Homo sapiens: one gene and its partner. The protein of the gene in region 1 interacts with the protein of each later gene in a pairwise test. Each region holds a gene or a part of one and is shown on either strand. Other genes may lie near its edges.

What was found.
Region 2: the proteins of CACNB4 (region 1) and SYT1 interact in a two-hybrid assay, tested with the Homo sapiens proteins (one study listed by IntAct).

What each region holds. Positions count from the first base shown.
Region 1 is NC_000002.12:151,840,528-151,844,357, reverse strand, and holds part of CACNB4 (voltage-dependent L-type calcium channel subunit beta-4), read left to right. Parts: intron 1-2,269; coding exon 2,270-2,455; intron 2,456-3,830. UniProt on the Homo sapiens protein: The beta subunit of voltage-dependent calcium channels contributes to the function of the calcium channel by increasing peak calcium current, shifting the voltage dependencies of activation and inactivation, modulating G protein inhibition and controlling the alpha-1 subunit membrane targeting.
Region 2 is NC_000012.12:79,298,001-79,301,830, reverse strand, and holds part of SYT1 (synaptotagmin-1), read right to left. Parts: intron 2,448-3,830; coding exon 2,280-2,447; intron 1-2,279. UniProt on the Homo sapiens protein: Calcium sensor that participates in triggering neurotransmitter release at the synapse. May have a regulatory role in the membrane interactions during trafficking of synaptic vesicles at the active zone of the synapse.

The DNA of each region.
Region 1 (3,830 bases):
GTAAGTTCAGTTTTCACACATCTCTCCAAGCCTCCTTCCAAATCCAGAACTTTATGCTGCAGCTTCAAACGTTAACTGGCTCAGTCTCTTTATTTTTCTGAATTAAAGTCCCAGTGTGACATAGATTATTATGGATTTTAATACTTATCTCTCCCACCACACTTTATGCTTCTTGAGCATAAGATGTCTGTTTTCCTTGCCACTGTATACCCACAGTGCCTAGAAGAAAATAGGGACTGAGTATTTTATGAATGAATAAAATATGCAAAATAATCTGAAATCTACTAATAACTGTTCTTGGTTGGGGGGAATTTTCTACATGAGTTGAACTGGCTAAGTCTTCTCAAACATGAGTCCATTTGGACTGAAGTCATCTTATTCTTTTCCTAGTCTTGTTCCAAGAACCCCAAATGGCTTTCCAATTTAAGGCCAAAATTTTCCATAAAAATTGATGTGATGAAACATTTAAATAGTAAATGTTGGGAGAGAGATTGTTTCCATGGTGACTTCTGCTTCAGGAGTCCTTGTTCTAAGCACAGAAGAGAATGACTGAACTGAGACACCACTAACTTCACATCATCCAGTTGCCATTAACCTAATTTCAGCCAGCTTTATCAGTGCCGATGGCAGTGACCCTGTCTTTGATTCATTCCTGGGAGGTTCTTATTTTGGTAAAATGAGTTCATAAAAGCAGATGAAGGTGGTGGGAAAGGTCAATCCTACTATTGAAAGTTGAGATGTGAGCCGGGTGTGGTGACTCACGTCTGTAATCCCAGCACTTTGGGAGGCCGAGGCAGGAGGATCGCTGGAGCCCAGGAGTTTGAGACCAGCCTGGGCAACATGGTGAGATCTCATCTCTACAAAAAGTTAAAAAAGTTAGCCAGGCACAGTGGTGCATGCCTGTGGTCCCAGCTACTCAGGAAGCCGAGGTGGGAGGATCGCTAGAGCCCAGGTGTTCCAGGCTGCAGTGAGTTGTGTTTGCTCCAGTGCACCCTGGCCTGGGCCACAGAGCAACACTGTCTCAAAGAAAAAGAAAGAAAGAAAGAAAGTTGAGATGTGCTAACACTTACCTGTGGAATGACTTTTCTCTTTGTGTGGTGCCAAAGTTTTCTGGTTTCCCTCTGAAGAGTATATGTCTGGGGTATATCCTGTCTGTGTTCCCAGCCACACTGCAATGACAGGGGGGCCACCCTGCTCCTCTGGAACAGAACAACTTCCTGAGTACAGACCAGATGTTGAACAATGGCCTTACTGTCCGAAACGTGGACAGCAGATACTTCTTTTGTGACCCCCTGCTTTCCCTAACTAAACACCCCTTGTTCTTTTTTAACCATTTCACAAAATGATCTTGTGGTAGCAGAAACCACTGCCATGTGGTTTTCTGTTATTAATCCTAAACTTTCTTTCCTTATTGTTTTATCATAAAACAGATAATGTTATTTTCACAAGCATTCTGAAAATTACCTAAGTAAATGTTATTCCCTTCAACATAGTTACCTTAGGAGAAAAAATGTTTATTCCATTGATGTGGTCATTGCCCAAAACATGTCTAGAACTCCCTTCTCAGTGCCACAAACTTGCTTCTCTCATATTCCAAAGTGTGTAGAGTGCAGCTCTATAGGAATACATGGCTAAAGATGTGAATACACGTGGGTTTTTGTCATATTTTACCTGTAACACATTTACACTTACTTCATCTTTTTCTTTCTAAATAATGAAAAATCCGGCTGGGCGCTGTGGCTCATGCCTGTAATCCCAGCACTTTGGGAGCCAAGGCAGGTGGATCACTAGGTCAAGAGTTCAAGACCAGCCTGGCCAAGATGGTGAAACCCCATCTCTTCTAAAAAAAATACAAAAAAATTAGCTGGACGCAGTGGCAGGCGCCTGTAATCCCAGCTACTTGGGAGGCTGAGGCAGGAGAATTGCTTGAACTCAGTGGACAGAGGTTGCATTGAGCCGAGATCGTGCCATTGCATTTCAGCCTGGGCAACAGAATGAGACTCCGTCTTAAAAAAAAAAAAAAAAAAAAAAAAAAAAGATCCAAATATTGAATGAACACTTTCATTTTTATATTAATGTCTACATTCGTTCATGGATAACTGTGTAACTCTTCACTTGACCCTAACTTTAGAAACTGCCCATATAGCACCTCAAATTTGATTTTAGCTAATAGCTATTAAAAATGCTATTATCTGTGTTAAGTGGAATTTTAGGTTTCATTGCCTAAAACCTAAAATGGAAGTAAAGTGGATTTTCTTGTCATCTACAGGAAATGTTTGATGTTATATTGGATGAAAATCAGCTTGAGGATGCATGTGAACATCTAGGGGAGTACCTGGAGGCGTACTGGCGTGCCACCCACACAACCAGTAGCACACCCATGACCCCGCTGCTGGGAAGGAATTTGGGCTCCACGGCACTCTCACCATATCCCACAGCAATTTCTGGGTTACAGGTATTGTCACTTTTTCACTCATGCTTTTTACAACCTTACATGTAAAATTCTATGGGAACTTGATTAGGATGGAGACTGGAGTCATCCTTAATCTGAAGAGGGAACACTATGTGCACATTATATTTAAAAATCTTAAATATTATCTAATTATGATCTATCCTAGAGAAAACTACCCAGAGACTGACAATTTCCTGAGAATTATGCTGTCTGTGAATTTACAGTGGATTTTACTTAGGTAAATTAACTCCTCCTATGTCTAAACTCTGCTGGCAAACGTAATGCCTACTCAATGCACCTGCCCATTACTTTTTTTTAGAGACATAGTCTCACTCTGTTGTTCAGGCTGGAATGCAGTGATATGATCATAGCTCACTACAGCCTCAAATTCCTGGACTCATGGGCTTATGCAGTCCTGCTGCCTCAGCCTCCCAAATAGCTGGGACTACAGGCACATACCACACACATGGATAATTAAAAAAAAAAAATTGTAGAGACAGTGTCAGTGTCTCACTTTGTTGCCCAGGATGATCTCAAACTCCTGGCTTCAAGCAATCTTCCTGCCTTGGCCTCCCAAAATGTTGAAATTACCATCATGAGCCACCACTCCTGGCCCCTCCATTACTTCTTAATGCCACTTCTTAAGGATTACACAATAGCTAAGTAAGATATATAGGTGCAGATAGGCCTTTCAGCTGCCCTTAATTAATCCTGCCGCACCCAGGTTGCTAGGCCTGCTCTCTACCTTGCACAAGACAATGTGGATATAAGTAGAGCTGCTCTGTTCAGAAACAGTAACTGATCCCTGAGTTTTCTTGGGGCTGTGCAGGTGCCCACCTTTGTAAGTGGCTGTGGCACGTGTCCTTTAGGGAAGCTGGTGACGAACACAGGATCAAGAGGTTCTCCCTTCTGCTGTTCTGGTATTGCACTCAGAGGTAGAGATAGGGAACCAGAGACCTTATGGTACAAAATGAGCCTGCCTTTCTACATCAATTATTATTTACCATTCATCAAGTAGCTGCTGGAATGTGGCCAAACCCGCAGCAAACTGAGGAACATGTAGTCAATTGAGCCCTCTTGTATCATGATGAGTTTTGTTTTAATGGATTATAATGATAGTCTTAATTGTCGATCATACAGAGTTAACTCTGAGATAAATGGCACTCTCTGAAATGCTATTATAGCTGTATTACTCTGTTACAAAATTGCATCTTTGTAAGCAGAAAAACTGTCATGCAAATGAATAGCTTTTGAAACTAGAAATGAACATGAAAAATGTACTGTGGTAATGTACAGCACATACGCATGCATTAGGACTATTTCATGCCTTGTTTCACTTCCCATGGGCTGATCTGAGTGTACATTACTATTGACTAGT
Region 2 (3,830 bases), on another chromosome or scaffold:
GTAGAAATCAAAGAGGAAAGTCTCTAGAGTTTTACGAGTGTAATGATAAAATTAATATTTCCCATTAATAACTCCTACAGATACTCAGTAAGTGCAATGGTGAGAAAAAGGATAGCGAAGTAGATAAAAATAGAGGGAAGAGACACAACAAATGAGGAGATGAACACACAAAATGGGGAAAGAGAACACACACACAAAATTAACCAAGAAAAAGGTATGAGAGACCTCTCACTTAGTGAACATTTACCATATGCCAGACTCTATGCTGGGTACTTCATGTTCTATTCTATTTCATCGGTAAGTAAGATAAGGGGTAAATCATGTTAGGCCACTTTCTAGGTTAAAATTCTGAATGGGCAGTTTACCTAAACCCCTAGATTCTAGAGTGAAACCCGTCAGCCTGGTGTTAAGTTTCAAACTCTGCTCGTACTCAAAGATTTCTGAAAGAGGAAACTTGCTCAATGGTCCACATTCCCTTAGCTCAGAAAAAAACATTGCACAATTTTTCAGAAACCCACTGGGTGTGATCTTGGATGTCATTACCACCTGATAATTATCCAGGTGAAAGTAACAAGTGTGAACCATGCACCCTGCACAAGTGGGCATTGTGAAGTACCAGTGGTTCATGTTCTCATATTCAACCAACAAGCCAACCAAACACCAGTCAATTAATAAAACCAATCAGTTAATAAACATTTCTTATGGTCCTACTTTATCACCCAAAAAATTTACACAAAGTCAAACACTTCAACAAAAAAGTCAATGAAACATCCCACTACTTTGTTAAATAATTATAAACATTGTAACTGAATGATCGAATTTTTTTTTTCATGAAGATGTCTGTAACATTACTATTAGTTCACTTATAGGAAAGAACTATCCATAAAATCATATAATTTTAAAACTCGGTATTTTTCCTGGGTATTCTTGAATATCCACAGTAGGGCTAAATCTGTGTCAATGTCTAAGAAAGGTTAGTCAACATTCTTAGATATTGAGACAGTAAATATATATATATATATATATATATATATATATATAATAAGTATACATGAATATTATATACAAAAATACTTAAGCTCTGCTCTCTTTTTTGGAAAGTATAAGTATACATACTTTTTTCCAAAAAAAAGAGCAGAGTTTAACTTAAGTATTTTTGACTCATTTTGTAAAATCAAATAGCAAACAGCAATGTTAGAGTGAAAAGTTCAATTTCAGCATGGGAATTAATAGGCCTGTTCTAAAACCTCATTTCATCATATAGGGGGTATAAAGTTCATAGCCTCAGATTGGTCACAGAAAACCTTAGGCTGAGAGGATTCCCAGGTGATGGACTTGATTGAGTTTCTCTGAAGGCCTGACGTTCTCTCTGATCTCCCTGGTGACCCCAAGAGGCCAGGGAATCCTAGGGACCTGGAGATCCTAAATGACTGAGCTGTCAGCAATCTCTTGCGTAATTACAGCCTTACGTCAGGAACTAAAGAGTGACTGCGAAAGGAGTTGTTTTAGGAATTTGGAGAAGCTAAGGGTTGTTTGCTTTTCTAGTATTGGTCTACTGAAATGTTTGCAGAGAAAAATGCTGGTGCCAGGCAGGCATCGCATAATCAGATACAATTGATTATTATGAAGCTTAAATGCACTAAACATATTGAACTTCCCTTTTCAAGTCATGGAAAAATACTGGGCTAAACTATTAAAACTGGGAATAAACAATGTGAGGAGTAGCATAAAAATGTGAGTCATTTAAAAAATGGATTTAATATCAGGCTTTGTGAATTATATTTGATGTTTGACCAATCATGCTCTCGTATCTTTAGGAGAAACAATGAACTGTCTGTGATATGCAGAAACAATCAAGGAAAAAGTACCATTTTATTTCTGTGTAATAGCTACATAACCTATGCAGAAAACACAAAATGATTGTGGAAAAATGAGAAATAAAATAATTTTTCGTTGTCATTTTAAAGCAGTAGTTTATGAGTGTGTGTGGCCTTTTGTAAGCTTTTAGAAAGAGTTCCTGTGGGCATGTGTGTTTGTTTGTGTCCAGGGTTGCTGTTTCTAGATCCAGTACACAAATGTCTCTCTTCTTTCAGATAACACCCAGAAGACCTGTACACTTTTTAACGAGGTGGTGCAGTGCCCTTGACCCTATTTTATCAGCTGTCAACAACTAGAGGCCCACATCCCCCTTTGTAAAGAGTATTTCTCAATAAGTTATTATATGAGCAGCAACTGGCGAGTACAGCTTGTGATGTTAGAAATGCTAGTAATTCCCTTACCTCTTCCTTCTCAGCACTTTGCAGGTCACGCCATTCCTCAGTTACATGGCCAAAATCCACTGTGTTCATAGGGACTTTAAATTCTCCAATGATGTCATGCTTAGAGAAACGATCAAAATCATATACAGCCATCACTAGGGTTTTGCCACCCAATTCCGAGTATGGTACCTAAATTAAAAGACATGAGGATAAAATATCCAGTCACAAAAATGCTTAAAACATGTTACTTGTTCATGGTGCTTAATTTAATATTTACGTTGCATAAACAGAACAGGGAGATAATTTTGTTTTTGGTTATTTTTTAAATTCAGACTTTTGACAAACTGCTTGAGGCTAAAATTACTTGAGAGAAAATGGGAAATTTTAGTGATTTATTGCCTTATCTCAAAGTTCTAGAAGCTGTTAGCATTATTAATAATGGATCCTGCTGTTAGTTATACTATAAAGCCTTAAGATTAATAAAACAATAAACAAGCCAATTGCATTTGACTATAAGTAAGTTTTTCTTGTAGAATATTTTGTTGTTATTGTTGTTTTAAGTTGTATTGTCAGGGTGTAACTTACTGAGGGGCAAATAACTTATTTCAAATGCTCCATTAACTCTTTCAAGGCATTTAAATGCCACAGTTCAATGGAGCAATGATTTATTAAAGGCTATGCTAGGAGTCTGAAAGGATTGAAATGATATTCACAAGTGCCTCACCTACTCCCTAAAATAATTTGCTGATTGACAAGAACTGACTAGGAAATTGATGTTTTGAATATAAGAGGTGCATTATAATATGGGTTTTGAAGTTCATTCTTGGGTATGACATGCCTTAGGATGAGTGGTGGCAAAAGGCCAAGAACTGATGAATTCTCCAGCTGTTCAAATATATCTGGGACAGATGCTATGGGTTGGGATGTTTATTAGTGACATTTTTAATATTCAGTGAAAGCAGTGCAATCCAAGTAAGCTACACTTCAGTAACTGGGTAGAAATACCTAATTAAGAAATTGTTTAGACTTGTCTTAAAGGTTTGATCAATTTTCATACACTTCCTATTATTTTATCAGTGTAAATGGTTGTCTTATGCTTCAGCAAACATTTCTCAATTAACTCTGTATATTAAGGAGGGAAGAAAAGGAAGAATATTGGGCCATCTACATACAAGAAATTTTAGTTTTCCAAAGAGTTTTTCTTTTCTGTCATTTATTTACCATCTGTTTGGAACCTGATTATTTTATTAAAATGATATGATTAAAAAGTAAGCATCATCCTTTTTCCATTTTAGAAGGAATGGAAAATAAACCCTTCCAAAGAGCTGACTCTCAAAGAAAGAAACAAAATTTTTTAGAGTAAGGATAAACCCTTGAAAATGTTATTGTATATCTAAAATCTCTCTAGACTTTCTAGTGATTGTACTCAAAGAGCAACAGTCAAAAACCTGGACTTGGGGTCAGACAGACCTTGTACCAGATTTGGACTTTCCAACTAAAGGGCCTGGGGCACGTGATTAAACATAAGTTTATTCATCTATTAAATTGTGATAATACTGTAATAATGGCTGC